4 separate regions of the Homo sapiens genome follow, and all the other regions are linked to region 4. The links come from fine-mapping of genetic effects on gene expression. A gene starts in region 4. Each other region holds a variant in brackets. All regions are shown on one strand. Distances are between the middles of the regions. Region 1 overlaps TAOK1 (TAO kinase 1). Region 2 overlaps SSH2 (slingshot protein phosphatase 2). Region 3 holds the start of GIT1 (GIT ArfGAP 1). Region 4 holds the start of ABHD15 (abhydrolase domain containing 15).

Evidence for each region.
Region 1: its variant is fine-mapped to the expression of ABHD15 in lung (TOPMed, PIP above 0.99).
Region 2: its variant is fine-mapped to the expression of ABHD15 in whole blood (INTERVAL, PIP 0.95).
Region 3: its variant is fine-mapped to the expression of ABHD15 in monocytes (Fairfax 2014, PIP 0.95). The same link has a PIP of 0.9 or more in Th17 cells.

The regions. Positions count from the first base shown.
Region 1 is chr17:29,476,749-29,484,850 of GRCh38, reverse strand. It overlaps TAOK1 (TAO kinase 1), which reads right to left. Exons shown (of 20, transcript NM_020791.4): 5 at 7,145-7,190; 6 at 6,504-6,600; 7 at 4,370-4,483; 8 at 2,563-2,654. Among named protein-coding and RNA genes, the nearest start is that of ABHD15, 86 kb to the left of the region's middle. The variant T/C (reference allele first, on the strand shown) is at 4,453.
Region 2 is chr17:29,674,975-29,683,076 of GRCh38, reverse strand. SSH2 (slingshot protein phosphatase 2) reads left to right here. Exons shown (of 16, transcript NM_001282129.2): 7 at 5,336-5,404; 8 at 6,192-6,257. Among named protein-coding and RNA genes, the nearest start is that of SSH2-AS1, 40 kb to the right of the region's middle. The variant G/A (reference allele first, on the strand shown) is at 3,380.
Region 3 is chr17:29,586,497-29,594,595 of GRCh38, reverse strand. GIT1 (GIT ArfGAP 1) reads left to right here and starts at 4,948. Exons shown (of 20, transcript NM_014030.4): 1 at 4,948-5,269. The coding sequence starts at 5,218. It overlaps ANKRD13B (ankyrin repeat domain 13B), which reads right to left and starts at 1,464. Exons shown (of 15, transcript NM_152345.5): 1 at 861-1,464. The coding sequence starts at 974. RefSeq lists enhancers at 276-345, 3,968-4,867, 5,767-6,666 and silencers at 2,670-2,859, 4,620-5,099, 5,360-5,549. The variant T/C (reference allele first, on the strand shown) is at 3,843.
Region 4 is chr17:29,563,167-29,571,268 of GRCh38, reverse strand. ABHD15 (abhydrolase domain containing 15) reads left to right here and starts at 4,232. Exons shown (of 2, transcript NM_198147.3): 1 at 4,232-5,183. The coding sequence starts at 4,303. TP53I13 (tumor protein p53 inducible protein 13) reads right to left here and starts at 2,568. Exons shown (of 7, transcript NM_138349.4): 1 at 2,439-2,568; 2 at 2,183-2,251; 3 at 1,910-1,951. The coding sequence starts at 2,510. RefSeq lists enhancers at 1,528-2,028, 3,112-3,161, 5,182-5,291 and silencers at 2,332-2,691, 3,692-3,951, 4,042-4,661.

The sequences.
Region 1 (8,102 bases), 86 kb after region 4:
GGTGGATCACCTGAAGTGAGGAGTTGGAGACCAGCCTGGCCAACATGGTGAAAACCTATCTCTACTAAAAATAAAAAAATTAGCTGGGCGTGGTGGCAGGCACCCATAGTCCCAGCTACTTGGGAGGCTAAGGCAGGAGAATCCCTTGAACCCAGGAGGCGGAGGTTGCAGTGAGCCAAGATTGTGCCACTACACTCCAGCCTGGACAACAGAGCGAGACTCTGTCTCCCTCCCACCCCGCAAAAAAAGAAAGAAAAGAAAAAAAACGAAAATCATACCTCTAGACCTGTGTTATCTAAAAAGGTAGCTAACTAGCACATGTGACTATTTAAATGCAAATGTATTTAAATAAAATTTTAGAAAATTCACTCCTTTAGCTGAAAAGCCATAGCTACAGAACACTTCCTTCACTGCAGAAAGTTTTCCTGGCCTGTGCTACTTTAGACCTTTCACCTAGAACCATAATCAGGCTTAAAATATAGTTCCTGACTTAGCACTTCAAAATATTCAAAACATTTGTAAGTAAAATGTTTAAAGTTATTATGAAAGATTACAAAAGTGAAGATACCAAATGAATGCCTAAAATTCTAAGAAATTATTTCAAATATTTCTCCCATGCAAAATTATTTAAAGGCAGTCACATCTAAAGTTCCTTTAAGTATAAAAACTTCTATTGTGAAGGAACTCTTTTATGAAGTAGAATAAAAAGAAGCTAGAAAGGAGAAGCCATTTCACGGAAACTACAAAGTTTAGGTAGATTTTGTTCTAAGCACAACAATGAGCCAACAAATACCTTCTAATCAAATAAATCTTAAAATATATCAATGAAATCTAGCAGGTCCATTAATGCAATTTCACTATCACTGAGGGGCACATGTATGCATCGGCCAGCATTAAGAATGTAAAAGGACCCCATGGGCAAAGAGTACATTAACCAGCTTCTGTACATGTATACCCAGGCTTCTTAAGAAATTAAATTAGGACCTATGGGTAGGAAAAAGAATCATAGGTAAAAGAATAGAGATTAGAGTTTAGGACACCTAAAGGTACTTTCAAATGGAAGAAACAGTTTTGCAAACTTCAAATTAAGACAAAGAAATCCCAAGTATGACATGGTAATCTCCAAATCTCTGTTTGTTGATGTTGTTAAACTATAAAACAAACAGCAGCAGGATGTGGAGCTTGAAGGGAGTAGTTAACAGAGGAATTCCAACAAAAGTGAAAATACTTAAAGATTACATTTTAGGGAAAAAAAACTGGACTGCAAGGTAGTCTGGTTGTAATAGAAATCGTAACTTTAATCTACTGTGTAATAATAAGCAAGATTTTACCTTCATTTTACCTCATTTTCCCTATACTTATTTTAGAAAACTACTGACAAACTCGAGTAGATAATGATTAATCAAAATTACCAACAGATTTTACTTTTAATGTATTATTTTCCATCCTTAGTCACTCCTTTTAGAATGGTTTAGATGAGCGCAGTGGCTCATGCTTGAAATCCCCCCACTGCGGGAGGCTGAGGCAGGAGGATAGCTTGAGCCCAGGAGTTCAAGACCAGCCTGGGCATCATGGCGAAACCCTGTCTCTGCTAAAAATACAAAAATTAGCCTGGTGTGCTGGTGTGTGCCTGCAGTCCCAGCTATGCAGGAGGCTGAGGTGGGAGGATTGCTTGATCCCAGGAAGCAGAGGTTAGAGTGAGCTGAGATTGCACCACTGTACTCCAGCCTGGGTGACAGAGCAAGACCATGTCTCAAAAATAAATAAATAAGTAAAATTTAATGCAATGCTCTTATAAGAAGATAAAAAGGAAAAGACTATTGGGCTGGTAGACCTCCATTGGGAAATCCAGAGCAAGAAGACGGCCAGCATCTTCAATTACAGTGACAGTTTATTGGCTCACAGAAGTTATGATGGTCCACTCTTTTTAGCACAGTTCTATTTATGAACAACTTAACAAAATGTGTGCTTAAAATCAAACTGCTACAGGAAATTCAGTCCAATCTCTCTCTCTCTCTCATTGCAAGACCCTGCTACAGTGATGCATATACCTATGGATCATGGCCCCTGTTGAATGAAGTCGGCCTTACCGTCTTAAAAAAAAAAAATATGTATATATATATATATCAAACTGTTACAAAATGGTATGTAGGTATGACAGTCTGACATCTAATTTCATCCCTAATTAAAAAAAAAGTAGTAACTACCCCAGCTAGTTATGAATGGCTTACAGATCTTCTATAGCTGGTAAATCTGGTAATCATAAACATATTCTAGGTGTTTAACAAATACTCATTAATGTTAGACATAGATTCCTCAAACTTAATTAAAACCACAGTGGAAAATTATTTTAGATATAATGGAACAGAGCAAATATAATATAGGTAACCCTAATATAAATAAAACTTACCAAATAACCAAAGTGAAAACCTTAATAAATGTATTGCCCCCCTTATAAAGTGACATTTAAGATAAAAATCTATAATTTTTATAGATTGGTACAGAAATTGAGGTAAAACATTGATCAAAACTTAATCCATAGTAATGAAGAACAATGCTTACCTAGTTCAATACATGTTATTCCAAGAGACCACACATCTACTTTGCCATCATATTGTCCTTCATCCATGGCTAAAATTACTTCTGGGGCCATCCTAGAACAAAACGTTAATTTAAATTAAAGATTTTTTTTAAAAAGTATTCTATCCTTTGAGAATGTAACAGTCATCTACATGGAGATCACTGGTTTGAATTCTAGCCAATATATCTGGACATAAGAATTTTTATAACGGGAACTAAGTGCATTACAGGTTGTGAGGTAAATATTTAGCAATGCATATATAGTGTGAGATTTATGTATTTATTTATTTATTGTATTTATTTATTTTTTTGAGACAGAGTCTCGCTCTGTCACCCAGGCTGGAGTGCAGTGGCGCAATCTCGGCTCACTGCAAGCTCTGCCTCCCGGGTTCACGCCATTCTCCTGCCTCAGCCTCCCGAGTAGCTGGGACTACAGGCGCCCGCCACCATGCCTGGCTAATTTTTTGTATTTTTTAGTAGAGATGGAGTTTCACCGTGTTAGCCAGGATGGTCTCGATCTCCTGACCTGGTGATCCGCCCGCCTTGGCCTCCCAAAGTGCTGGGATTACAGGCGTGATCCACCGCACCTGGCCCATAGTGTGAGATTTATTTTCACTATCCATCATTATCATGTAACAGCCACCCCAAAAGAAAGAGGCTCCCAAGGCAGAATTATATTTTGCATCTGCTCAAGTTTGCAGATTATAATATTTCATATACTTTAGGCCAGTGGTTCTCAAATATTTTGGTCTCAGGATCCCATTACAAAAGTCTATTTTTTGGCCAGGCACAGTGGTTCACGCCTGTAATCCCAGCACTTTGGGAGGCTGAGGTGGACAGATCACGAGGTCAGAAGTTCCAGAAGCCTGAGCAACATGGTGAAACCCCATCTCTACTAAAAATACAAAAATTAGCCGGGTGTGGTGGCTGCTGTCTGTAATCCCAGCTACTCAGGAGGCTGAGGCAGGAGAATCGCTTGAACCTAAGAGGCGGAGGTTGCAGTGAGCCAAGATCACACCACTGCACTCCAACCTGGGCGAGAGAGCAAGACTATGTCTCAAAAAAAAAAAAAAAGTCTAATTTTTGCTTAAAAGATTGAATTTTACTATTGGCAACAAGTATTGTCCGTTGTTTTCCTTGAAGTTATAAGCTCATGTCATTTATTAAAGAAAATTATCTGCCACAATAACCAAGACTGAATAATCATAGTTTGTTTGTGTCTTTCTTTCAAATAAAAATGGTGCTCCATGATAAAAGTGGCTAGGGCAGCTTGCAACTCAATCACACAATTATCAATCTTATGGGCATCTTATTTGTAAATGAAGCACTAATCACTAATTCATGTCTTCAATTAGTGTCCTACATTCTTTTTTTAAAATTTTAATCTTTTTTTTTTTTTGAGAGACAGGGTCTCACTCTGTCGCCCAGGCTGGAGTACAGTGGCACAATCTCGGCTCACTCCAACCTCTGCCTCCTGGGTTCAAGTGATTCTCCTACCTCAGCCTCTCAAGTAGCTGGGACTACAGGCATGCACCACCATGCCTGGCTAATTTTTGTATTTTTTGGTAGAGATGGGGTCTCACCATGTTGGCCAGGCTGGTCTCAAACTCCTGACCTCAAGTGATCTGTCTGCCTCGGCCTCCCAAAGTTCTGGGATTACAGGTGTGAGCCATTGCACCTGGCCGAGTTTAACATTCCTGACAGTACTTTACCTTACACTTCATTTGTATTTCATGTTAAACATAGACAGACACTTAAAACAGCTGCTGACTGCTTTAACTATTCTTACCAATACGGCGTTCCCACAAAGGAATTGGCAGGTGATGCCATGGAAGCAGAGCCAAAGTCAGCAAGTTTCACCTGGCCTGGTTC[T/C]GTCAGAAGGATATTTCCTGCTTTGATATCTCTAGGTTTAGGGAATACAGAAAATTACTTAACTTTCCCTCAATAGATTATGTTTAAAACGATAAAAATAAAACAAGAATTCATAGGATAGAGAAAGAGAAATCAAAATAATTAAGTGCTGGGGTAATCTCACAATTGGGATAAGGAGAATTAATATTCAAATTAGAAAACAAAAAACTACAGAATTCAAATAAACATATAGTAATAATTTTCTAAAAGAGAAGACAAATAGCAGTAAAAAAAAATTAGTTCATTGGAGCATAGTTTATATTTTAGTTTCTGTTTATTGGTAGAAACAATGGTTTTTAAAATATATTGCAATTAGCAAACAATCTCTTCATCATACGTAAGATTTCTGAGTATCCATACTTAACTTAAAAACAAAAAAGAAAATATAAAAGAACCTTATTCTCCAAACTTTTTAAAAGACTTATTCAAAATAAATAAATACATAAAGATGTATTCGTATCATTTCCAAACGTCAGCATAGTTTTCCTAAATATAAAATAAAAACTGAAATATATGGATAATGTAGTATCAATGATCCCAAATTTACTTTTCTGAAATAGCAAACATACTGTCTATATAAACTAAGAAAACATGTATTTATATAATAAGACTGTCCATCTAATTAGCATTATAATATATACTTAATCATTCAAAAATTAAAATAGAAATTAAAGTGCTGAATTTCCAAGCCCTTGTTAATTCTCACTATAATATTTTAGAGCATAACACGAAGTGAATCTATTTTTCCTCCATTTGATTTTTTTTAAATGGAGAGGTATCTTAAATTTGAGAAAACCTTAGGTTGAAATTCCAACTATGGCACTCACTTATTTACTAGCTTGTGGGTATCTCTCAGATCTTATCCTCATGTTAAAAAATGATAACCTATTAACTCACAATGACTCTATTATATAGTTTAAAACTCACTTATTTACTAGCTTGTGGGTATCTCTCAGATCTTATCCTCATGTTAAAAAATGATAACCTATTAACTCACAATGACTCTATTATATAGTTTAAAATGTACTGCCTGGTTCATATATGTAATAAGAAAATGCTAACTTTCTTCTAAAACAGCTAGAACCAATACCAGTGCCAAAAATACATTATAAAATGTTTTAACTTCAAAGTTACTATCCATTATCAAGGATTATCAAGGACCACAGCTCAAAAGCATAAGGAGTCTTAAGCAGCTTCTGTTTTTTTTTTTTTTTGAGACAGAGTTTCACTCTGTCACCCAGGCTGTACAGTGGTACAGTGTACAGTGTGTACAGTGGCACAATCTCAGCTCACTGCAAACTCCGCCTCCCGGGCTCAAGTGATTCTCTTCTCTCAGCCTCACGAGTAGCTGGGATTATAGATGCCTACAACAAAGCCCAGCTAATTTTCATATTTTCAGTGGAGACGAGGTTTTACCATATTGGTTGGCCAGGCTGGTCTCGAACTCCTGACCTCAAGTGATCCACCTGCCTAGGCCTCTCAAAGTGCTGGGATTACAGGTGTGAGCCACCTCGCCTGGCCTTAAGCAGCTTTTATTCGTCCATGTCATAGAATCAATGGAATAAATATGTCATTATCAGTTACCAAGAAGACAAAAGATCTAGATTTAGTTCTAGCTCTATCTACTCAGCTTTGCAACCTTTAGGAAATTAGTCACAAATTGAGACATCAGTGATTTTACCGGTAAAATGAGAAAGAAAAACTGTATGATTCTCTAATGCCCATTCCAGTTTGCAAATTAAATGATTCTATAGCTAAATTTCTACCACAAATCTAGAAAGTATACATATTTTTACAAGGTCCAGCAGCACATATAGGCAAAGATAAAAATTATCCTAGTGAGATAAAGTATACAACTATGTTCATTTTAGGACATGAAAAATCTAAAAAAATATGAGCTTATATTATTTTATTTGGCTTTAACCAATAAAAACTTTAGAGTTAATAAATTCTAAAGTTGGTATATGCAACAAGCCATTTACTTATCAATATATAATTTCCAAAGCACTTACCTATGAATCATAGTATGAGAATGTAAGTAGGCTAATCCCTGAAGAGCACCATGTGTAATTGCTGCTATTTCCACTTCTTGTAATGGCTTTTTGTGAACTTAAAATTTATTTCAAAATAATTAATACACAGAACATTTTTGTTAAAAAAATACATATCTAATACATGGGGCAATTTTTAAAAACTGATACTTAGCAAGAAGAGATTTATTTTCCAAGATGATAAAGATTATTAAACTTTATAACTTGTATGCAGTTGTGTCAGTTGTTAAAGTACAGTTCATAGCCAATTCTTCTCTTAGCTAACGATATTAAATAATTATTTGGTGATGTAAAAACAATAGTAACAGAGTTCTCTCTTTATTCTCACTTATCTTTGGTTTGAACAAGAGGAGCAGAATGACAGAGAATTCAGAAAAATACTTGTAAAGTCACAATGAGAAAACATGACTATTTTAAGCTACTGTATAACATATAATATTTAATAAGGACAGCATATACCATGCTGAGAATTTGAACAAGACTAAGAGTTCTGCTCTTTCTGGAAAGTTTTACATTATTTGGTATTAATATCATTTAAATAATGTCTAAATTATCATTTTATTCTGTGAATACTTTTTAAAAAATAATCAAAGGGAACTTACCTTCTAGTAAATCCGAAGCAGATCCTAAACAATATTCCATTACAAGCTACATGGAAAAGTTATAAAAGCATTAAAATATATTATTATAAAGATTTAATATAAATTTAAGATAAAATAAGTTCACACAGTAGATCAAGAACATAGTTTGAAGTAAAATTCTAGTCACCATTTACCTTAAAAAAATAGTTATATAGATATTACTCAGAATAATATATTTTTAAAATTTTTTAATAAAAAATAGTTATGTATTCAGTGATTTGTTAAATGCATAAAGTCAAGCCAATGATACATTAATCTTTTAATAATGCCAACATATAATCACTTCTATAAGCTGTGTATTTCATATATAATTACTAATTAAAATTATAAAGAAATACACTATTTCTTAAAAATGTACTATTCCATTACTACAAACCTATAGTAACAATATTGATCATCGTTAGAAGACAGAAAACTGTGTTCTCTAGAATTATATGTATAGTCAGCCCTTCACATCTGTGGGTTCTAGATTTGTAGATTCAACCAACTATATATCAAAAATAATTGAAAAAATAAAAAAATTGGCTGGGCACGGTGGCTCATGCCTATAATCCCAGCACTTTGGGAGGCCGAGGCAGGCAGATCACCAGGTTAGGAGATTGAGACCATCCTGGCACACACGGTGAAACCCCATTTATACTAAAAATATAAAAAATTAGCTGGGTGTGGTGGTGGGTGCCTGCAGTCCCAGCTACTCGGGAAGCTTAGGCAGGAGAATGGCATGAACCTGGGAGGCGGAGCTTGCAGTGAGCCGTGATTGCGCCACTGAACTCCAGCCTGGGCGACAGAGTGAGACTCTGTCTCAAAATAAATAAATAAATAAAATTTTAAAAAATGACAATATAACAATAAAAATAAAACAAAAAGCCAATATAACGTAACAACTATTTACATGGCATTCACATTGTGGTATTATAAC
Region 2 (8,102 bases), 110 kb before region 4:
TTCCTGATGTTGAGGGGAAAAAATCACTTTGTCACTAGAAAGTTTCCCAAACCAATGTTTACCTTATTCCTATATAGAAGTCAACCTGAAAATGACTTGGGGGTTCACAGGAATTCCCAAAGCCAAAGTTATTAGCTTGTATACCACTTAACAGCATTTAATTGTAGGCTCTGAATTTACACAGGCTTGTAAACCAGATTTAGGAAGATTTCTCCTGCATGGTTTTAACTTCTGATTAAGCAACAGAGCTTTCAGTAAGCATTTTCCTATAACAGCACCTACCTTGTTTACATTCATTAGGATTTTAGGACCTCTAATTTAGGTTTTTAATCTTTCTAGATCTGTGTTGTCCAGTATAGTAGCCACTAACCATATGTGCCCCTTCCTTCCTTCTTGCCTGCCTGCCTTCCTTCCTTCTTTCATCTTCCTTCCTTTTCTCTTCTCTTCTTTTCTTTTTTCCTTTTTGTGAAGAACACAGTCTCTCTGTGTTGCCCAGGCTGGTCTCAACTCCTGAGCTCCTGCCTCTGCCTTCCTGAGTGCTGGGATTATAGGCATGAGCCACTGCATACAGCATGCACGTGTCTTTTTAAATAGATTAAAATTAAATGAAATTTCAATTCCTCAGTTCTAACTAGTCACATTTCAAGTATTCAGTAACCGTATGTGCTAGTGGCTATCGTATTAGACAGTACATGTATAGAACATTTTCCATTCTTGCAGAAAGTTCAGTTGGACAGCACTGTTCTAGCTCATATTTCCTTTGTTCAGTTCTCCCTGACCCCCTCCCTTGAAAACCCTATAAAACAGGAACAGGAACCTCATGAAGCTTCAATTGAATCTTCCCCTAGAGACAGAAGACAATAACTGCAGATTCTCCTGACCCAGAATATGAGCAAGCACATGTCTAATCATTTCTCTTTCACTTTGTCCTAAACTTTACCAGAAAGAATGCATATTAATATAGGTATCCAGTAGTTTATACTCAGTAAATTACATCTATCTTTTGCCAATGGCCCTGTCTGAATCATATCTGACCAGTGTCACTAGCCAAAGGAAATTATAGTTTATAGAAGACAAACTTAAAACATGAAAAGCTAGAAACTAGTTTTCATTCTGTTTGCTAAACTTGCTATTATGAAATTCCCATACATCCTCTGCTTTAATGAGTTCCTTGGACAGTAAGAAGTCTCAGATGCTCAGGTAATCTAAAATCATTTCTGTCTCAGTTGTTGTTGAAGGAATTTGAATTTGTATCATTTCATATCTGAGAATGTAAATGTTAATGCTTCAAAATAGTATTAAGCCAAAGTGGAACCCAGATTATGACAAGTACAAATAGTTCTTAATAATACGTTGCAGCCAATTCATTTAGCCCATTTACAAGTTCTTTGAGTATTATGTTATATTTTAATAATTTTTTAAATATGCAGCATAATCTTGGTTTCTAAAGTGTAACATATTTTAAGTTATAAAATAATAGAGCTTCATGGTTTTTTGGGGTTTTTTTTTTCCATTTCTTTTTGTACCCCTAACACCTTGAAATGTCTGGTACATAGTAGGCACTAAATAAATTTTTATTGAATGAATTGAATATTTACTAAAATAAGTAGTTATACTTAAATGGAGAAAAATCTTGAGAGACTGAGGTAACCTGGATAAAAATACCAAGCGTGCCTTATTCAGTCCTTTCCTTCCTGTTGCGTGAAAAAGCTACTTTTTTTTTTTTTTTTTTTTTTTTTTTTTTTGAGACAGTCTCACTCTGTGGCCAGGCTGGAGTACAGTGGTGCAATCTCAGCTCACTGCAACCTCCGTCTCCTGGGTTCAAGCGATTCTCCTGCCTCAGCCTCCCAAGCAGCTGGGACTACAGGCGCACACCACCATGCCCAGCTAATTTTTGTATTTTTAGTAGACGGGGTTTCACCATGTTGACCAGGATGGTCTCTATCTCGACCTCGTGATCCGCCCGCCTCTGCTTCCCAAAGTGCTGGGATTACAGGCACCACGCCCTGCTGAAAAAGCTACTTCTTAATGTAAAAAAGCACTCTGGCCTGAATACAAGCCAAAAATGTAATGTCGATTCCTGTATATCAATGTCACTTGTCCAAAGGTTAACCAAAATCTGGTCACAAGCTTATAGATCACACTCTTTTGCAGCTTCTGTATCTTTTTATATAGTTAATTTCTAGATTTGTCATTGGGCTACCAACCCACCATATTTATACTCAAAATTATACTTGTTGCTAAGAACCTGGCTAAGCACTCACTAAATACAAAACAAAAAGCTACTGTAAAACTATCCCCACTTCATCTTGGGAAGCCGTTTTCAAAACAAATTTTTTTGTGCGCTCATCTCATCTACTCAACAAAACTTGTGGTAGAGCTGTCTTGCTCCTGGACTCTGGCATGGTAGCTGTGTTTCTGTTGTTCAGGTCCAGGTTCTAATGTGGATAAGCTGTTTCAGTCTTGATTTGAATCTCCTGAGCTCTGGAATCACTCTTTTTTTTTTTTTTTTTTTTTTTTTTTTTGAGAGGGAGTCTTGCTGTGTCTCCCAGGCTGGAGTGCAATGGCGCAAATCTCAGCTCACTGCAACTTCCACCTCCCAGGTTCAAGTGATTCTCCTGCCTCAGCCTCCCGAGTAGCTGGGATTACAGGTGTCTGTCTGCCCCTGCACCCAGCTAATTTTTGTATTTTTAGTGTAGAGATGGAGTTTCGCCATGTTGGCCAGGCTGGTCTTGAACTCCTGACCTCGGCCTCCCAAAGTGCTGGGATTACAGGCATGAGTCACCGTGCCTGGCCTGGAATCACTCTTAAGGTGTTAAGCAGCACAGGCCAGCAAGTGTAGTGGAAAGCCCAACTAAGGGCTAGCCTCCTTTAACCCTGCAGTGACTAACAGTTAAAGTTTGGTATTCATTATGTTGTTTTTAAAGCATAATGGTTTCCCCTTCCCCCAATCACTTTCAGATATATTAGAGCACCCATTACAGATTCATATTCAACATTTGTTTTACAGGACAGTATATTCACATATATTGTTTTATTTTAAGTATGTTATGTCTTTATACCTATATCTATGAGAATAGGTTTTATTATTCACAGTTCAAGATGAAGAAATTAAGGCTGAGAGAGGTTAAATAATTTGTTTAAAAAAAAGTTGTAATACTGAAGGAAATCAATCCCAGATCTTTTGGCATAGTAGATGTTCAATAAATGGTAATGACTATTACATTTTAGGCACTTAGACACTATTTTACTCTTTTATTTGTTATTTAATCTTCAAAACAGTACAATGAAGAAGATATTTTTATCCCAGTTTTACAAATGAAGAAATTAAGGCACAAGACAGTTAAGTAATTTGCCTAAGATTATACAGTTGCTGGGC[G/A]CGGTGGCTCACGCCTGTAATCCCAGCACTTTGGGAGGCCAAGGCGGGTGGATCACCTGAGGTTGGGAGTTCAAGACCAGCCTGACCAATATGGAGAAACCCCATCTCTACTAAAAATACAAAATTAGCTGGGCGTGGTAGTGCATGCCTGTAATCCCAGCTACTCAGGAGGCTGAGACAGGAGAATCGCTTGAACCAGGAGGTGGAGGTTGCAGTGAGCCGATATCACACCATTGCACTCCAGCCTGGGCAACAAGAGTGAAACTCCATCTTAAAAATAAAAAAAAAAATAAAAATAAATTTTAAAAAAAGATTATACAGTTAGTGCAAGAAACCAGGTTCCAGAGCCCATAATCATACTGTGAACCCAGGTTCCAGAGCTCTTAACCATACTGTGCTTTTCCACAGTATGGTTATGCCAGATTCTTTCTAGTACACCATGCTTCCGCTCTAGATAGATTGGCATGGAGCATCATGGAAGCCTTTCGGAGACTAGCCAGAGTGGGAAAGCAGTTACAGCAGCGTTAAGGAGAGATAGTGGCAGTAGCCTAGGGTAGGTTACTGTTTCCCAGAGAAGAGATGTGATAGAGCATACAATCAGGGGTCCATGGCTTTCTGTACGAACCTCTTCCATTAACTTAAAGCCCTTCCTGGGCTAATGTGAGATTGAAATAGCATTTTAGGCCGGGTGCAGTGGCTCATGCCTGTAATCCCAACACTTTGGGAGGCTGAGACGGGTGGATCACTCTGAGGCCAGGAGTTTGAGACCAGCCTAGTCAACATGGCAAAAACTCATCTCTGCTAAAAATACAAAAATTAGCCGGGCATGGTGGCACATGCATATAATCCCAGCTACTCGGGAGGCTGAGGCAGGAAAATCACTTGAATCCAGGAGGTGGAGGTTGCAGTGAGCCAAGATTATGCCACTGTCCTCCAGCCTGGGCAACAGAGGGAGACTCTGTCTCAAAAAAAAAAAAAAAAAAAGAAATAGTATTTTTAAATACCATACTAGGGCTACCCTTTTCTTGGTTGTTGACATTTCTATTAACTGTGTTTCAGCAGTGCTAGTTCAGTGCACAGTCACAAAGCAGTGTTTCATTGATTTAAGTTTTGTTATGTCTATTTTGCCTATCTTGATCACAAACTATTAACAATTACTTCTTTACATTTTTTAATTCCCTTTGCCTTTTAGACTATTGAGTGTGTTCTGGTGTTAAGTAAATCTATGTAAACCTCAGAATTAGAGGCAAATAACACATCCCAAGCTCTCCAGCAACCAGCAATAGTTATTGGCATTAAAAATAATCCTTGGGACTGGGCACCATGGCTCATGCCCGTAATCCCAGCACTTCGGGAGGCTGAGGTGGGTGGATCAGGACTTCGAGACTAGCCTGGCCAACATGGTGAAACCCCATCTCTACTAAAAGTACAGAAAAATTAGCCAGGTGTGGTGGCGCTCGCCTGTAATCCCAGCTACTGGGGAGGCTAAGGCAGGGGAATTGCTTGAACCTGGGAGGCAGAGGTTTCAGTGAGCTGAGACTGCACCACTGCACTCCAGCCTGGGCAACAGAGTAAGACTCCATCTCAAAAAAAAAAAAAAAAAATCCTTGGAGTCGAGGTGGACACTGTACTATGTGCTAAGACCTGCCAAATGCAAGTCAGCAGCAATCATCTGCATTTTTTAGATAGTGGCCATTTGCAAGATGACAATGTAGGAAGCTGAGTCAGTAAGTTTTCTTCATTAAATATTTAAGGAACTGACTGACTATCTCTTTAAAACAGCTCCTGAGGACATACATAAGATTAATAATAATATGATAGAAATTTCTTCATTGTAACACTTATGCCAGAATTTAGAATTTAAGGGTTTATCCTTGGTGTTGAAAGAGTTAGTAAACAGAAGACTGCTTCCCAGAGTAATGGGGAGTAACTATTGGACTACTTCTTGTCTTGCAGTAGCACTTGTACCATGGGCTTAGTTTTGCCTCTCTGGAGCGACACGCTAATTCATTTGGATGGTGATGGGTAAGAGATTTCCTTTTTTATTCTGTTACAGAAAGCCAAGGGGTGGGGCTCCATCTTACTGCACATTCATTCAGCTAAAAGGGAGGCCCAGTGTGCCAACTGAACTTTCATGTCAACAGCTGAATGAGTCCTTTTAAACTCCTGTTTTGTAAAGTGGAGTAAAAATACAACTTGCCAGGGTCTCTCACTTCTGTTCTTCTAGGCCGACTGTGGTAGGAATCAAGACAAAGAAGAACTAGTTTGTTGGCTCTTTAATCTGAGTATGTGGGACTGTTGCAATGCTCTCCCAAAGGATGATATGTTCTGTTTCAAATAACCTCTTGCTGCCTCTGCCAGCTGTCAGCCTACAGTATAACCCCTTTCCTGTGCCAGTTCCTTCCAGTGACCCCACCCCCACCCTACCTCCTAATGTTTTTAGAATGTGTCCCCAAGAGACCAAGATGTTTGCTCCAGTTTATAAAACCAGGGTCAGGTTTGCTAAGAACCCACAAGACTTCCAAATAGAAATATACAGAACAGTTTGTCCATAGCTACAGCTGGGAAACTGTATTGAATTCTCTAACTCCAATATAGGAATCCATTCATTTTGCCTGGTAGATGAAGTCAGACAATTTGTCAAAGCTTTTTGGTCAAGTCTTACACTCTAGTTAAAACTTCTACGTGAAATGCCTGATGATTCCCTCTACGGAGCCAGTTGTTTTTAGCCTGGGATACATCCATGAAAACTCACAATTCAAATAACCTACCCTAATTTGTGGATTTTTGTCTTGTTCTCATTTGTCCTTAGTGGGTTCAGTGTATCGACGGATAACAGAGTTCACATATTCAAACCTGTATCTGTGCAGGCAATGTGGTAAGATGACTTTTACTATCTCTACAAAAGTGTTTTAATGTTATTGGAGGAATATTTTGTAAGAAATGTTTGAAATGGTACAGTTTGCTATGAAAATGCTAAATGATCTGTTTGTATAACCATCGTAGTTAAAGATGACCTAGAAATGCAATATTCAAATTGTTGCAATTGGAAGGCCTTGAGTATTGGTGAACAAGTGAAATTCAGAGGAATTCAGAGGTGTTATTCTTAGGCTCTGGCAGAGACTTAACGGTTTAGATAAGCCAGTTGATACCGAGTTTTATTAGGGACATATTGACTAAGTTAGTTAGTGGACTAAGAGCCAAATCTAGAACATCACATTGCTATGCATTAGCTATTTCTTTTTTTTCTTTTTTTTTTTTTGAGACGAAGCCTCACTCTGTTGCCCAGGCTGGAGTGCAGTGGCGCGATCTCGGCTCACTGCAACCTCCGCCTCCCGGGTTCAGGCGATTCTCCTGCGTCAGCCTCCTGAGTAGCTGGGACTACAGGCATGTGCCACCACGCCTGGCTAATTTTTTTGTATTTTTTAGTAGAGACAGGGTTTCACCATATTGGCTGGGCTGGTCTTGAACTCCTGACCCCGCCTTGGCCTCCCGAAGTGCTGGGATTACAGGCGTAGCCACTGCGCCTGGCCTGCATTAGCTATTTCCTAAGGTAACCAGGGATAGCATTCGTTACTTTATGGATAAATAAATTTCCATTTAAACTGCTGGTGGCTATTTGCATAATGCAAATAAAGCCTAGAGAAAACATTATACTTGCTAATAACCATCAGCTGGCATATGGACATTTCAGGGCTATTTACTACATGCCAGATGCTTTGCATGGATTATATTTAATCATCATACCAAGCCCCCAAAATAATATTATTAGCCCCTTATTATGGGTGAGAAAACATGCTTTGGATGGGTTACATAACTGCCCTGAGAGTATTTCTTACATTTAGACAGGATAGATCTCTCTCTCTCTCTCATATCTCTCTCTCTCTCTCCTTTAAAGAGACAGGGTCTCCCTCTGTCGCCCAGGCTGGAGTGCAGTGGTGCAATCATAGCTTATGGCAGCCTCCAACTCCTGGGCTCGAGTGTTCTTCCTACCTCAGCCTCCTAAGCAGCTATGACTACAGGCATGTGCCACTACACCTGGCTAATTTTTTTTTTAATTTTTTTTGTGGAGACGGGGGTCTCTCTGTGTTGCCCAGGCTGGTCTTGAACTCCTGGCCTCAAGCCGTCCTCCTGCCTTGGCCTCCCAAAGTGCTGAGATTGCAGGTGTGAGCCACTGCACCTGGCCTCTTATTCTCTTATTTTAGATTATCTAGAAAATTATCTAATACAACCAGAGAATGATGTGACTAAGATTCAGAATCCATTCCCCAGTCAGGGATTTGAATTTCAGTTTCCTATTCAGCTGCCTGTTAGGTAGTAGAAGTCCCCATGGGGAGCGGAATGGATAGAATGCAAGCAAAACAAGAAATAAAAGAGCCTGAAAAAGACCCCAGGGAGATAATCTACCCCTGAAAACAGAATTGATAGGATGGAGGTGGGTGGAATCCAAAGACTCACTGAAAAATTAAGTCTTATCATTTCCTGCAGTGATTGAGATAGGACAGTTTCAGGTCATGTGTTTAGACCAGATTTTTAGAGTTAGGGCATATTTTGCAGGTAAGTTTCTCATGGAAAACAGGAAATTTATGACCCCCTTTGACTAAGGCTCAGTTAAAGACAATTGACTTATCTATTCCTAAGTAACAAGTAAAACCAAACAGCAGTAACAACGATAAATGACAGCATTTTCAGGTATATTTTGGGGAAGAGTACAGAGCAGTCT
Region 3 (8,099 bases), 23 kb before region 4:
GAAGTGGCAATCTGTGACCTGTGCCTGCCTTTGTTCTGAAGCATGGCCAGAAGACATCCTGAAGCATGGCCAGAAGACATCCCCCCTTCCCCTGTTTTCTGGAGACCACTGCCCAGCCCAAAGCTGGTGACCCACGTGGCCTTACTGACCAGCAGAAACCAGGGAGCCCACCTGGTGCGCAGAACCTCAAGTCCTTCCAGCAGCCAGGGCCCCTCAGCTTCCTCTGCGCCTAGAAACCAGGCCCCAGCACCAGAGGGCAGGAGAGCGCTTTTCAGCACCTGGACAAGGCCCTTGGGGCCTCCCAAGAGGGTCTTTCTCCACTCCCTGTTCCTGAGCTGGGGCTGGGCTCTGAGAGATCCAAGGATCTGCCCAGTTTGAGAGCTAAAAGAGAAAGCGCTCACCGTTGGGGAGAGGGCGCTGGGTGGGGCTGGGGTGCCTGGGAGTGTGACACAGCCTCTTCCCCATTCTTGACCTATGGCCCCCTCCCCACGCAAGCCTTTCCCACCTCCGCACCCTCACTCGGGAGGTGTCGCCGCTCAACTGGCTGGGGCGGACTCTCCCACCACATGGAACACCGACACAGCCCGCAGCCCCTCCCTGCAGCCCTCACTGCCCCGGCGGAGGAGGGGCACAGAGGCCTCTACTCTCATCTAGGTGAGTCCGAAACACGTGTGGTCCCGCCCGTCCCGGCCGGAGGGGATCACCCTTTCCCGGTCAACAAGCACAAAAGCCGCGGCCGCAAACAAAGACGCGCCGCAAACTCGCCAGGGAGGCGGGACAGCCCGCGCCGCACCCCCTCCCCAGGCCGGACGGGCGTGCCCGGCCGCGGGGTCCCCGCGGCGCCCCGAAGGCGCTCCTACCTGGCCCGCGCGGACCTCCTTCTCCAGCTCGCGGTGGCGGTTGTGCCACACGAGGTAGTGCAGCGGATACTTGCCCTCGGGCCCCTTCCTGGCGGAGGCGTTGGCGGGGATCATCGCCCGCTCCTCATGCCGGGGCCGCGGCGCCCGGCCGGGGAGGAGGGACGGCGCCGGAGCCGGGGCCCGGGGCCGCGGGGCGGGGGGCCGGCGCTGCCTGCTCGCGGGGCTGCGGCTCGGGCATGTGCGAGCGGCGGCGGGCGGGGGCGGCGCGCCCGGCGCGGTGCGGGCGGCGCGGGCGACGGGCGTCCTCGCGAGGCGGCGGCGGCGGGCGGCGCGGAGAGGCCCCCACCCGCCCTGGGAGGGAGCGGGCACTCGGCGGCGCTGCGCGGACTCGCGCTCGCCTCCCACACCCCCGCACACAAAGACGCCGCTCGGCGGAGGGAGCAGGCGCCCGCAGCGGGCGCGGGGGCGCACGGGACGCGGGCCCCGGGGACGCCGCCGCAGGGACGCGCGCCCGCAGCCCCCGGGTCCCCACAGCTGCATAGCCCGGCCCTCAGCCCGAGCGGCCGGCGCGGGATACGGGGATGTGGGGATGATGGGGAGAGAGGAAGGGGACCAGGCGCCCCGGGTAGAGCTTGTCAGCTCAGCCCCGCGGCATCATGGGGTTTGTAGTCCGCCTCGTGAAACTGGGGGTGGCAGGTGGCCGAAGAGGGTCTGCACTGTCCCCGGATCTCGTGGGAGAGTGGGCGGGGAGTCAGGCCTGGCCCAGACGCGGGCGGGGCCCTGACGCCAGGTGGGCTGGGACGCACCTCCCCCGCTGGCATTTTGCCTTTTGCTGGGGAAGTGGGGGGGCACGGGCCTAGGTCGAGCGTTTGGGAGACGGGGTGGAGGTGTGGTCTTCAGAATTGAGCTTGGGTCCCAGGGGCCATGAAGAAGGATCCGGATTCCCAGAAGAGAGCGTCTGATTGGGAACTCCTGAGAAAGGTGTGGGGCATCAGTACCAAGGGTCATTGGAGCAGCCAGGGGTCTGGCCCCTGGAACATTTCTGAGGAGTCTTCCCTGCCCTGTTAGAAAATTAAACTCCATCTTCCACACATGTCATTGGAAACAGAATGTCCAGTAACGCGGGAAAGATGGTCCCTTTCCCCCCGCACACTGTCCCCAGCAAGAACCAGAGTGAGGTTGGACAGAAAAAGCAGCAGGTGGCAGCTCCGTTCCTCCACCCAGCTGGCCCTTCAGGAAGGGAAGTGACTGATTCCAGAGACTGTCTCCTTCCTGAATGACCCCAGGGTGAAGAGGTACTTCCAGAATGGTCCCTGCAGAGGGTGTGGTAAAAGTTGAATTGGCCTCTCAAGCGCCAATTGCAAGGCCTGGAAGGACCAAGAGGCTTGGACCAGTCCCTGGAGGGAGGGGACTGTGATGTCAGAGAGACCAGAGTTCGAATAGCTCCAACTGCCTGACCTTAAAAGAGCAAACTGCTTAATTTTTCCGACTTTCTCGGTCCACTCCCCTTCAAAATGAGAATCTAGATACTACCTCCTGGGGTGAGCTAAGGATAATGACTGCCCTGGAAACAGCGCCTCCCTCCCCCAACCAGGCGGGCCGAGACAGGTGGCGGGACCAGGCACGGTGCCTTCTTGAGCCCACCTCAGAACAAGGCAGGAATAAGGGATTCCACACCGGCCCTACTTAAAACAACAATCCAAGAAGTGTTTGTGTGGGAGGTGCCAGCAAAAGCTTGCAAACTCTCTCAGGTTTCTTTGTGTGGTCTTCCCTCCTTCCTCCTCCACACCCTGTGGTGCCAGGCCCCAGCGGGAAGAGATGAGGGAGGAGCGGGCTGCCTCGCCCCTTTCTCCCGCCTGGGAGGAGCCAGCTGGCGTCTCCGGGGGCCCGGGACCGCTGCCCGCCTGCACCACCAGGGGTCAGCAGAGTGTCGTGGCTGCAGCCAGTGCAGGGGAGGGGGCTGGCGCGGTTGAGGGGCATCTAGGAGTGGCCGGGAGCATGCCTGTGCATTTCCTTATTAAATTGTTTTTCGAACCTTGTGTGTGATTCCACTGTAGCAGTCCTGCTTCCTGGGGTGGTGACATCTCCACGGGGGAATCCAGAAACCCTTTTATCTCCAGTCCCAGGCCCAGAAGTTTGGCTGTGACGGGGCTGGGGGAAACAAAGTTTGGACGATGTGTCCGCGCCAGGGCCACTCCCAGGTAGTCTCTGAGCCAACCAGGAGATGGGGAGTGGGGTGGAGGGGTAAGCAGAGTGAATCATCCTTCTTCCCCAGCAAAGCCCAGGAGTCCGAGGACAGGGGGAGTTCAGGATGGATTGTGGGGAGTTGTCGATTGTGGGGAACTGTCCCCTGGGCGGCCGTGTTCTTTTTTTGCCAGGCGGCGGTAGACACTGAACCCAGGTCGCTTGCGCTTCGGCCCGCGCTCTCAGCTGCCACGTGCTCGAGACGCGCCCACACAGCGGAGAAACAAAGACAGCCAAGCGGCAGGGCTGCCAGCAGCCTCCTCGACATTTAATAAATGAAATTCCATAGCTGGGGGTCGATCGGGGGTGAACGGGCGGCCACCGCTCGTGGACTGAGCGCCTGGCACGGGCTGCCTGGCCACTCCTCCCGTCTCACTCCCCCCGCCCCTTACCCCCTTCCCGCTGAGGCCACCAAGCCCATGGACTCTGGTGAGAGAGCAGCTCGGGGCGGCAGGTGGTGCTCCCCCCTACACACCAGCTAGGTATCGTTGCTTGCAAAAGCCCCACCAGCTGAGCGGCTGGCTGTCGAGGGAGGGGAGGCCTGCAAGATTTTTTTAAGGTGCAATTATAAATAAAGCCCATGGATCGCGATTTCAAACAAACTTGTCAATCTGGGCCGCAGCAAAAGGCGATGGAGGCAGCTTTGCATGTATTTCGGGTGGTGTGACTCATGAGCATTACTTGTCTCCCCTAGGGAAGGAGCCTGCCCACCCACAAATCACTGCCGCTCTGGCACCG[T/C]TGGGATAATCGACCAACTTGAGCACCCCTGCCAAAGGACTGCCCCCATCTTAACAAGCAGGAGTCTCTGACTCTTGGAGAACCCCTCCTCAATTGTCACCACTGACCTGGCCCCCAGGTCTGGCCCTGGGGACCTCTACCCTCTCCCCACAAGCAGAGTGCCCGGGCCTTTTGCTGCTGCAGGGATTGGGGGTTGGGTACACGCGCGGCACACGCGTATGGGGGCGCATGCTCAGTGCGGGGGCTGCGCTCATGTGCGGCCTCTACCTAGGCTCCCTGCCCCCCAGCCCACCCACGTCCCTCACCTGCCTTGCCTTTGCCTGCCTCGTCGTGTGAAGTCCAGGAAGAAAGGCCGTCACCTGAAACGGCCCCTCTATGTTATATGCACCCTTTCTGGACACACACACCTCTGGTGGCCCAGAAACACCGTGGGTGTGTGTAAGGCGGATGACAAGTGGATGTGAGTGCACACAGGCACAGTGGTCACTCCTCGGGAGGTCTTTAAAAACCGCCCAGATTCTCTCCTCTCTGGATGGAAGGATGCATGGAGAGATAGATATATTTTTAGTCCGGAGGCAGGGGAATACACTGCCTGACCTTTCTGGCACCTGGGCGTCCATATTGTTAGCAGTGGGCGTATTCAGCAAGAGTGTGACACATACACACACACCCCTGGACACACAGATGTGGACACCTACGGGACAGGGACGCACACCTCACCCCAACCAGAGATAGACGGGTACCCCAAGGCACAGCCCCTTTGACCTGGAGCGGGACTTGGGCCTCCAAGTCCTTCTTCCCTAATCCCCACCCTCGCCGTCCGTGGGCCCAGCGTCCCCCGGTCCACCCCACGCGGAAAGTGAAGGGGAGGGGGCTGTGAGGGTGACTCACATTGCCTCCGGGCCAGGCGAGCGCTGCAGCGGAGGCCAGGGCCGCAGGCCACGCTGCCCGCCGGGGCCGGGCATCTGCCGCGGCCCCTTTAAGCGCCCCCGCCCCCTCCTGCCCGCGCCCGGGCTTCCTTTCTCTAGGGGGCGCGGCCGGCAGCGCGCGGCGGGGCGGGGGTGCGGCCCCTCCCCCTGTGGGCAGGGCCTGCGCCGCTTCCTGCAGAAGCGGCCGGGAGCCGCGCAGGGGGCGGAGAGAGGAGCCGCGAGCGGCGGCGGGGCGGCGCGGGGCGGAGGGCGCCCGAGGGCGAGCGGGCAGGCGGGCACGGCGGGTTCCGGGCCAGCCCCGGGGCGGACGGTTGGCCGGGCGCGCGGAGCCTCGCCGGGGCCTCGCCGGAGCCGGGCCGGGCAGCAGGGGCCGCCGCCGCCGCCCGGGCCCGCCGCCCGCGCCCCCCACGCTGGCCCAGAGGGCTGCGGCCGCGTCGCCGCTGAGGATGTCCCGAAAGGGGCCGCGAGCGGAGGTGTGTGCGGACTGCAGCGCCCCGGGTAAGCGCGGCGGGGCCGGGGGCGGGACCGCACAGCCAGGCCGCCGCCGGGCGGGCGCCGGGGCCTGGCAAGAGCGCTGTGCGGGGCCGGAGGGCTGGGCGGGGCGGGGGGCTGCGGCCTCCAGGCTGGGCCCCCGCCTCGGCCACTGCGGAGCTGCGCCCTTGGCGGGAGGGCCGGCCTGGGGTGCCCATGCTCCCTGGAGGCCGTGGACTAGCGAGGAAGGACGTTCCCGGCGCCGCCTCCCGCTCCTCGGTCTGAGGGAGGCGGGCAGCTGGCTGCTCCTCCACCTCCATCTCTGTATCCGACGGAAGCGCCAGCCTGGGGTGGCAGGAGGGCCGTGGCGGAGGCCGTCAGGGCTTGGGAGGTGGGGGCGAGTGTGGTTTTATGTCATCTCAGTGCCACCCCCGCGTCTTGCACCTGCTGCTCGCGTGGTCGGTACGCCTGCCGGGGTGGTGGAGGGCAAGGAGCAGAGGGCCGGGCAGATGCGCCAGTGGGGCCTGAATACCGTCTCCTCAGGAGCAGATGAGCGGTGGCTACTCCCAGGACTCCCTGCCTCGGGTTCCTAAGGCTAGCGCTCCTTGCCGGGCCTGGCGTTCAGGGCCAGTCTAGACCCGGGTGTCTTCTCGGGAGGCATCCCCAGGCCTGCTGGTGGTGACTGGGAACAGCTCGGCTGGACCCTGCTGTTCCTGTTCACCGGTAAGGCCTGCTTGGGAAAGTGAGCTTGGCATCAAGCTATCCTGGGTGCGGGCCCCTCCCTGTCCCCTAGCCCAGTCTGGCCAGAAATGGGTGGGAGGCCGTGCCGAGATTCCCCGTATCCTGCTGGCTTCCTGGCCTGTCTCCTGGCTGTATTTACATGGTGGTTCCCTTCCTTTTCCTAACAGAGTTAGGACTGGGCTGGAGTGAAACCCCCCAGGCCTGCTGAGGAAGTCAGGGGTAATGATCCAAGAGGCTGCTCCCTTCTGATGAGGGAGGACAGCCAGTGACGGGGCTCTGCAGCTGGCCTGGGAAGGAAGCTCTAGCCCACATCCATTCTTTCTTTAGCAAAGGAGCTATCTCCCTGGTAGGCCCCTGGGCAGGCTGCGGAGGTCCGTGAACTCTAGCGGGGCTGTGGGCATGATTAAGAGTGAGAGTATGGGGTGCTGGTTTGTGGGCCCATAACTTTCAGCCACCCCTTGAGCAGGCCCAGGACCCCACCGGTTGAGCCTCACAGATGCTCTGGTGGTTCTGGGGGTGCCAAGCTAGAGTATTTGGGAACTATGACTTAGCAGGGCTTGGGCACAAAATACTCCATAGGTGGTTATGACCAAGGCCTCCTAGGGGCTTATCATGGTTTAGAGGGCCCTGGGGTTGAGGGTCCATACCCCTAAGAAACTGTGACTCCGTTCCCCGAGCTGCAGGCAGGTCTGGGGATGGCAGGGCTGAGGATGCACCTTGCCTTATAAATGTCTCCCCACTGTTCCACAACTCCGTGGGGTAAGCATGGCATGGAATGTGGAGGAGAGTCTTAGCAGGCGCCCAATCGGGGGAGTCTGGGGCTTAGTGTTGCCTTTGTTCCCAGCTTACTCTGTAATCCCAACAAGACTTTCCTCACTGTGGGGTCCTCAGCTTCCTCAATTCAGAGGCAAAGAAGTTGGAGTAGAAATGGTTTTTGGGGGGCTGCCATCTCCGAATCTGTGGTCTGATTCTGGGGTGGAGGGGTGAAGGGCAGCACCAGCAAGGCAGTTGTCCTTTGTATGTTGCGTTGAATGTCCGACCACAGCCTCTGGATGCCCAGTGGGCTCAGGGAGGAATGGTGGGCATCAGATGTGTTGGATTGCCCAGCTCCTCCTCCCAGGTCCTCATCTGTCAGAGGAATTTGTGCCCCAGATGCCTCCTTTCCCCTGATTCACAATAGAGGTCAGGAAGGTGGTGAGAAGGTGAGGATGGTGGGGTGGGGAGGATGTGGACAGTCTTACTCATCAGCCCACCTAGCACCCAGCGAGGTGTCCAGCACATGGCAGGCACTCCCTGAGTGTTTGGCTGCTTGTTAGGACCCTGGCTGGCTGCTTGGGACTATCCCACACCTGGACCCTAGGATGCTGGCCCTGGCATGCAGCGGCATGTTTGGTCTGGGTCCTGTGGCATCTCAGGCAGAGAGGCATGAGGGTACCCAGCAGTCCGGAGTCCAGATCCAGTGCCAGCCCCATGGTGTATCGCTCCACCCCAGGGTCACAGGCTTCTTTTATTATGATAGGAGCCCTGCAGTCCTAACCACAGGAGTGGGGCCAGGGACTTTTTGTGCTTGGTTAATTTGGGGGGTCATGGAGGTCAGAGGTGAGATGCAGCCTGTCCCCAGAGAGCCCCATCCTCCCTCTGCTCCCGGGCATGGGCACACAGGACAAGTGTGAGTGTGTTGCTAGGCAGCTGGACATGACATGGCTGCTCTGGCAGCTTGTGCCACCTCGTCAGGCACCGTATGTGTTCCTGCCTGCCTGGGGAGTCCAAGAGAGGAAGGGGGCAGGGAGCCCTGGAGAATGTGCATCTTCCCCTTTCCTTAGGCTTGGCCCACCTCGCCACACGATCTCAGTCAAGGGCCTCTCCTCACCCCATGGGCTTCTATCTCAGCCTTTTCCACTTTGGCAACCCTGGGGGTGAGAGTGAAGGCCTCAAGATGCCTGTCCTGTAGGTATCTCTGGTGAGCAAGGCCGGGGACATGTTACGGGACAAGCTACAGGCTGATTTGTCTCTTCATAGTGTAGATTGCAGAGTGGGACAAATGTTGGGCTCCTCTTCCTCCCTTATGGAGGTAGAATTTGTGTGTGTCAATGCCTGCACCTGAGTGTTCATCCTG
Region 4 (8,102 bases):
AGCCATAAGCAACCCCCAAATGAAGACCATCGATCCAATCTATACAGTCTCCCAAGAGCATCCAAATACAGGGCAGGCAGGCAGCAGGTGCACAATCTCAGGATGGAAATACTCCATCAATCATTCATTATTCTTTGATTGAGTTGACTTGGTGCTCAGTGCTGTGCTAGATGCTGTGGGAGATGCCAAAGAACTCCTGGACTCTGCTTGCAAGGAGTGTGTGAGAAACTCAGGGAAACAACTAATGCAAATAAAACAGCAAACTAATAAAACTTAGTGATTAGTTGTTAAATTATCAGAGATAGATTCAGAGGAGGAGGGGAGGAATAAAGGCTGATGCCATCGGGCAGTGTCTCAGGGGGAGCTGATGCCAGCTGGGACTGGGAAGATGGCTGGGGGAGTATGGCAGGAGGGCAGGGAGCTGCACTCTCCGAGTCAGGATAGGCCAGGTGTGGAGGAGAATAAACAGGAGCAAAGGGGCTGTGGTAAGGGCGAGGCTGGCACTCATTTGTGTGGCAAACAGCCCGACACAACTGGAGAGGAACCAAGGATGTGGAGAGGTCAGACGAAGCTTACTTAAGTAAGGCCTGAAAAGCCAGGCCGGAGAATATGGCCACGATAAGGTGGGAAATAAGGAGCCATTGACAGTTTGTGAACAGAGGAATGACTTCATGAAAGGGCTGTTTGAGGAAAGGAATCTGATAGGTGGCGTGAGGCAACAACTCTTGGCCTGGAGCTATTACAGAGAATTTTTTTTTTTTTTTGAGACAGTCTCGCTCTGTCGCCAGGCTGGAGTGCAGTGGCATGGTCTCGGCTCACTGCAACCTCTGCCTCCTGGGCTCAAGCAATTCTCCTGCCTCAGCCTCCCAAGTAGCTGGGATTACAGGGGTGTGCCACCACGCCCAGCTAATTTTTGTATTTTTAGTAGAGACAGGGTTTCACCATGTTGGCCAAGCTGGTCTTGAACTCCTGACCTCAGGTGTTCCACCCGCCTCAGCCTCCTAAAGTACTGGGATTACAGGTGTGAGCCACCATGCCTGGCCAATTTAAGTTAGGTATTTCAGGCCAGGCATGGTGGCTCACACCTGTAATCCCAGCACTTGGGAGGCTGAGGCAGGCAGATCACTTGAGGTCAGGAGCTCAAGACCAGCGTGGGCAACATGGTGAAACCTCGTCTCTACTAAAAATACAAAATTAGCTAAGCTAGGTGGCACACGCCTGTAATCCCAGCTGCTCGGGAGGCTGTGGCATAAGAATTGCTTGAACCTGGAGGCAGAGGTTGCAGTGAGTGCCACTGCACTCCAGCCTGGGCAACAGAGTGAGATTCCATTTCAAATAATAATAATAATAAGTATTTCAAAGGAAAATTCAGAGGAGCTGGCGATGAAGATGGAGATGCTACCACGCAAGCTGAGCCCGCAGTGTGGAGCCTGGCAACTGGAGGCACACTCCTTGCACGATGCAGCTCTGTACTGTACACGGTGCTGGCACATACCCTCCCTCGCTGCTCACAGGTAGAGACAGAATTAATACCCTCTCCTACAGAAAGCTGGGGCCCACAAAGTCAGGAGACTTCCCGCTGTCTCCTCAGGGAGCTGGAGCCTGGGTTTTTTCCAGCTACTCTCAGAGAGAGTTCCACTCACAGCCACTTGTCCACAGAGCCAGCTACCCAACAGCATCCTGACACAGCATTGCAGATGACAGGCCTATGGCTCACTGTCTTTGAGCCATCTGTCCTGGGGCTGATCTGTCCTGGGCTTGGAGGTGGGGCAGAGAACTAGAACCCTGCCTCTGCCTGAGGGAAGTGGTAAGGAATGGGGCCGATCAGCAGAACAGGCAGCGAAGCCTGCTAGGAGCGCCTGTCTCCAGGCGTGGACACCAAGGGTGGTGGGCCCCTGCTTGTACTCACCTGCCCTGGGCTCACTCGTGTGTAGGTCACTCTTGGTGACACCTATACATGGGGAAAGAACAGAGCTTAGGGCAGTTGGGGGACTCCGTGTGTGTGTGGTGGGGAGGGGACGGCAGGCCCCAAGCGCCAGGCTGGGATGGAGAAGTTGGCTACTGAGGACTGAGGAACCGGCAGAGGTCCTCAGATGGTGACTGTGGAGGGTGCGGCGAGAACAGAGCGGGACTGGGCTAGCCTTTCACATCCCTCTCTCCCTGGGCCCTCCAGGGCTCCTACCTGCGGAGGCAGAGGCCACAGGCTCTCGGGACAATGGGCTCCCGCCTCCTCCGCCGGTCCAGCCATCACCTGTGGGTCCAAAGCGAAGAGTTGGGGCGCTGGACGCGGCGAGGCCCTGCCCTCTCTCTCCCCAGGCCCAGCCCGCCAGCGGAAGAACTCCGCGTCCCCCTCGGCGCGCCACTCCTTCCAGGACGAACTTTTGGCAAAGCGCTTTGAGCTCGCGGGCCGAGGCCTTCCCAGGAGCGGGTCACCTTACCTCGCTGGGACCCAGGAGCCTCGCGAGGGCTGCCAGGAGAAGCAGTTGGGGCGAAGGCGGAGGAGGCGCCATTCCAAGCGGCCCCGGGCCCGGCCCGCCGCCCAGCCGCTCCGCCAGCGAGGGAGCGCGCGCGCCCCGCCCCTCCAGCCCCAGCGCCCCCGCGCCGCCCGCGCCGCCCGCGCGTCCGTTGGCCCTGGGCTCGCGCGCGCCCCTCCCCAGACAGTGGGCCCCCGGTATCGCCCCGCCCCAATGCCCGCCCACAGCAGCGGAGTGTGCGCGCACGCGTCTTAAACCCGAAGCCGGAAAAGTTAAGTGTAGGAACCGGGTCAGCGCGCAAGGCTCAGTAGGGCAGGCGGGGGGCCCCTTTCCTCGTCCGGGGATTCGTCTCAGCAGGTCCCTGCAGTCTGTAGAGCAGCTGCACAGCTGCAGCGCCTGGATGAGATCGTGGAGCGGAGTGTAAGGCCGGAAATGGAATCCCTGTGGACCGGGTGGCCCAGGCTGGGGAGACGGGTACACTCCCCTGGCAAACCCGCTTCAGATTTGTCGGTGTGACCTGCAATGAGAAGAGGGGCAGAATCATGAAGTCAGGAAGAGCTGCTGAAGGGAGAGGGTCCCACCTCTGGAGCTTCGCCGTCGGCCCACCCCGCTCCCGCCCTCGCAAATAGGGTCCAACGCGGAGGAGCCTCGGGAGGTGTCTCCGCTCCCCAAACTCTCCAAACCCAGAAGCCCCGGGAGGCCGGAGCTAGCCGAGAGGCTGCTGTCTTCCCCACCTCCGCCGTCGCCCAGCGGTGGCAGGCGCGCGTCTAGAAAGAGATTGGTCGCCGCGAGATGGGGACGCCACAGGCCTCACCCCCAGGAGGTGCGCTGGCCGGCCCGCCCCGCAGCGGGGCGCTGGTTCTGGTTCCCTCTCCAGGATTTGGGGGGGAAACGTGGGTAGAGAGCGAGGGTCGAGATGCCTATCCCAAAGCTTGGAAACAGCGAGAACGTGTTATTTCCGTGGTCTCCCATGCACCCCGGTTTACGAGGCGTTCCTTGTAGGTCGGACGGGCATCCCTGTCGCAGGGCGCCTGAGTGTGTCCTTTTCTCCGACTGACTCTCGGAGGCTTGGGGCTGCTGTTTCTGGGGAAGCCACTCCCGGGCTGAGGATTTCCTTGATGTGGAGCCCCGAGCTCGCGGGGACGGGGGCGAGGAGTCCACGGGACCCGCACTGATGCAGGCGGGGAAGCAGCAGCCTCCCGCCAGCGGCTCAAGACGCCGCGCTCGACCTCTCTAGCCCAGTGCCGGACCCCGCCCAGCCAAGTTATTGCGGGGTTGCGGGGCCGGGCGGGGGAGAGCAGGGCCGCCCGAGGGCAGAGCGCGCGCGCGGCCGCCGCCCCACGGGGTCCCGGGAGCCGGCGCCCGGAGCTGCGACTTACTCACCTCTCCCTTCTGCTTCTTTTCATCGGCCTCTGAGGGCGCAGCGCCCAGGGTCTGGCGGAAGACCCTGATGACAGTCGGGTCCCCAAGCCTCGGCCTCCAGTCTCCCCACGTCTCCATGGCCAACACCGCTCTCCCCGGCTCGTGCCCTCCCCACTCCCTTCCGGCTGCCGGCGCGCCCTCCCTCCCTGGTGGCCCCGGCTCCTCTCACCCTCTGCTCCCACTTGTTGCAATTGCTGTACAAAGGGCCGGGGCGGGGGTGGGGGGCGGGCGAGGGCAGCCGGGCCCGAACTGGCTGCCTCTGCCCGGCCACGGCCAATCCAGAGCGCGCCCGCGCGGGAGGGCCCTGGGCAGCCGCCGCCGGCGGGCGGAGCCGCGGGCAAAGCGCGGAGCTCGCCGAGTAGACGGCCCCGCCGCCCGCTGCCCGCCGGGGCTCTCCAGCTTCGCCATGCCGCCGTGGGGCGCCGCCCTCGCGCTCATCTTGGCCGTGCTCGCCCTTCTCGGCCTGCTCGGCCCGCGGCTCCGGGGACCCTGGGGGCGCGCCGTCGGAGAGAGGACCCTGCCGGGGGCCCAAGACCGAGACGACGGGGAGGAGGCGGACGGCGGAGGCCCGGCGGACCAGTTCAGCGACGGGCGCGAGCCACTGCCGGGAGGGTGCAGCCTTGTTTGCAAGCCGTCGGCCCTGGCCCAGTGCCTGCTGCGCGCCCTGCGGCGCTCAGAGGCGCTGGAGGCCGGCCCGCGCTCCTGGTTCTCCGGGCCCCACCTGCAGACCCTCTGCCACTTCGTCCTGCCCGTAGCGCCTGGGCCTGAGCTGGCCCGGGAGTACCTGCAGTTGGCGGACGATGGGCTAGTGGCCCTGGACTGGGTGGTAGGACCTTGTGTTCGGGGCCGCCGGATCACCAGCGCCGGGGGCCTTCCTGCGGTGCTTCTGGTGATCCCCAATGCGTGGGGTCGCCTCACCCGCAACGTGCTCGGCCTTTGCTTGCTCGCCCTGGAGCGCGGCTACTACCCGGTCATCTTCCATCGCCGCGGCCACCACGGTTGCCCACTGGTCAGCCCCCGGCTGCAGCCTTTCGGGGACCCGTCCGACCTCAAGGAGGCGGTCACATACATCCGCTTCCGACACCCGGCGGCGCCGCTGTTCGCGGTGAGCGAAGGCTCGGGCTCGGCGCTGCTCCTGTCCTACCTGGGCGAGTGCGGCTCCTCCAGCTACGTGACAGGCGCCGCCTGCATCTCGCCCGTGCTGCGCTGCCGAGAGTGGTTCGAGGCCGGCCTGCCCTGGCCCTACGAGCGGGGCTTTCTGCTCCACCAGAAGATCGCCCTCAGCAGGTGGGTAACGGAGGCCGCAGACCAGCATGGAAAGAATAGAGGGCCTGAGCTGGCTAAGAATCAGAAACAGCTATGCATAGCATTGGAACAGGCGTGGGCCAGTTTGGGCAAAGTTCTCTGAACACATCTTCCAAAGCCTTCCAAACCCTGTAATCTAGACAGAACCGGGGAAGCGGGTTTAAAGGTCATCGATGGACTCAGCTAGTATCGCTGTGCTAGAGCAGGGACTCCTAACCCGGCCCCTTGCCTCATCTCGGCACCCCCTGCTGTATCCTAGCAATCTGAGCACCTGGCCCACGACAGCAGAGATACCTGACATTTACCACTTAGCCCACAGCTTAACAGCTCAGCAAAGAGCACTCTGGAAGCAATTGCAAACGATTATCTGCCCAGAATGTTTACTCACAGTCTCTGAGCCTGGAGGTGACAGGAATCAGAAATATGGTGGCATTTGAGGCCAGGTGCAGTGGCTCCCGCCTGTAATCCCAGCACTTTGGGAGGCCAAGGCAGGAGGATCACTTGAGCCCAAGAGTTTGAGACTAACTTGGGCAACATAGGAAAACCTGTCTCTACAAAAATTTCTTTTTTTAATTAGCCGGGTGTGGTGGCATGCATCTGTGGTCCCAGCTACTCAGGAGGTTGAGATGGGAGGATCACCGAAGCCCAGAAGTTCGAGGCTGCAGAGAGCCCTGGTCAGGCCACTGCACTCTAGCCTGGGTGACAGAGCAACACCCTGTCTCAAAAAAAAATGTTATATATATATATACACACACACGCATATATGTAGGCATTTATTAAAATTATTATTTTTTAAAAGTATTTTTTTTTTTAGACAGTCTCACTTTGTCACCCAGGCTGAAGTGTAGTGACATGATCTCGGCTCACTGTAACCTCCACCTCCTGGGTGCAAGCTATTCTCCTGCCTTAGCCTCTGAAGTGGCTGGGGACTACAGGCGTGCACCACCACACCCAGCTAATTTTTAATATTTTTTTTGGTAGAGACGGGGTTTCTCCATGTTTGCCAGGCTGGTCTGGAACCCCTAATGTCAAGTGATCCGCCTGCCCCAGCTTTCAAAGTGCTAGGATTACAGGTGTGAGCCACCGTGCCCAGCTGTTTGTTTGTTTTTTGAGGCAAGATCTTACTCTGTCGCCCAGGCTGGAGTGCAGTGGTGGAATCACCACTCATTGCAGCCTTGAGTTCCTGGGCTCAGGTGACATTCCTAGCCTGCACTCTGGCTTTCTTAGGAGATGGCAGAATGAGGTCGAAGTCATTATGGCAACAGTGTGGTGTAGCAGAAAGACCTGGGATGTGGGGGCCAGACCCCCACCTCAGCCTCCCGAGTAGCTGAGACTACAGGCACATGCCACCATGCCCGGTTAATTTTTGTATTTTTCATAAAGATGGGATTGTGCCATGTTGTCCAGGCTGGTCTTGAATGTCTAGACTCAGGGAATCCACCCGCCTTGGCCTCCCAAAGTGCTGGGATTATAGATGTGAGCCACTATGCCTGGTCAGAGATTAACATCTAATTTCAACTGTCTGAGGCTGGATTGAGCTATTCAAAAGACGGAGCTGCTCATCCTGGCCTCCTTGTCAGGATGCCAAGCCCTCTCCAGGGGTCTAGAAACAGCAAAGATGTTCCCTGTTACCCAAAGCAGTTGCTCTGAGGCCCCCATTTAGGAATCCACCCAGTAAATTAATGACCAACTCAATTGCTTCCTCTGCCAGGCAGCACACTCTCTAGGAATATCTGCCCCAGGTATACCTGATCAACATCACACTCATGTGACATTACCAGGACAGGATGTTAGTTTAAAAAGCAAAAATAAAAACAATGAATGCAACCTAAAGTCAAATGTGAATTATTAGCAGAGGTGTCACCTGCTGGTTTGGATACTCTGAGCAGCAAGTTCTTCTAGGAGCAGTTTAGTAGGTTACAGTTCATAGCAAGTTCTCCACAGAGGGCCAGAAGTTGAGGTTAGGAGAACTGTCAGCAGCTGTGAAGTCAAATGCTGCCCCTAGGGCACATAGACAGGTGCAGTGATGCTGTGAATGACAGGCCTAGTGGGCACCGTCACACAGGAAGGAGGGAGGAACCCATTGTTGTGCTGAGAAATGCCCACCCATGTGGCTGGATCTTCCCACTTCCCTAGAGAAGCCAGACACCTGCATTTTATGTGAAATCTTCTAATTTTATTATTTTATTTATTTATTTATTTATTTTTTGAGATGGAGTCTCGCTCTGTCAGCAGGCTGGAACGCAGTGGCACGATCTCGGCTCACTGCAACCTCTGCCTCCTGGGTTCAAGTGATTCTCCTGCCTCAGCCTCCCAAGTAGCTGGGACTACAGGTGTCCGCCACCACGCCCAGCTTATTTTTGTATTTTTAGTAGAGATGGGGTTTCACCGTGTTGGCCAGGATGGTCTCAATCTCTTGACCTCGTGATCCACCTGCCTCAGCCTCCCAAAGTTCTGGGATTACAGGCATGAGCCACCGCGCCTGGCCACTTTTATTATTTTATATTATTTTATTTTATTTTTTGAAATGGTCTCTCTGTGTCACCCAGGCTGGAATGCAATGGTGCAATCATAGCTCACTGCAGCCTTGACCTCCCAGGCTCAAGCAGTCCTCCCACCTCAGCCTCCTGAATAGCTGGGACTGAGCCACCATGCCAAGCTAATTTTTTTTTTTTTTTTTTTTAGAGATGGGTTTTCGCCCTGTTGCCCAGGCTGTTCTCAAACTCCTGGACTTAAGTGATCCACCCACCTCGTTGGCCTCCCAGAGTGTTTGGATTACAGGCGTGAGCCACCACAACCAGCCTTATCTGGTTTTAAATGATGGCCATGAAATTAAACGTTTTCGAAGCCCTAAATGGCCAAAGAAAGCCTCTGTGGACAGATCTGGCCTGCGGGCTGTCT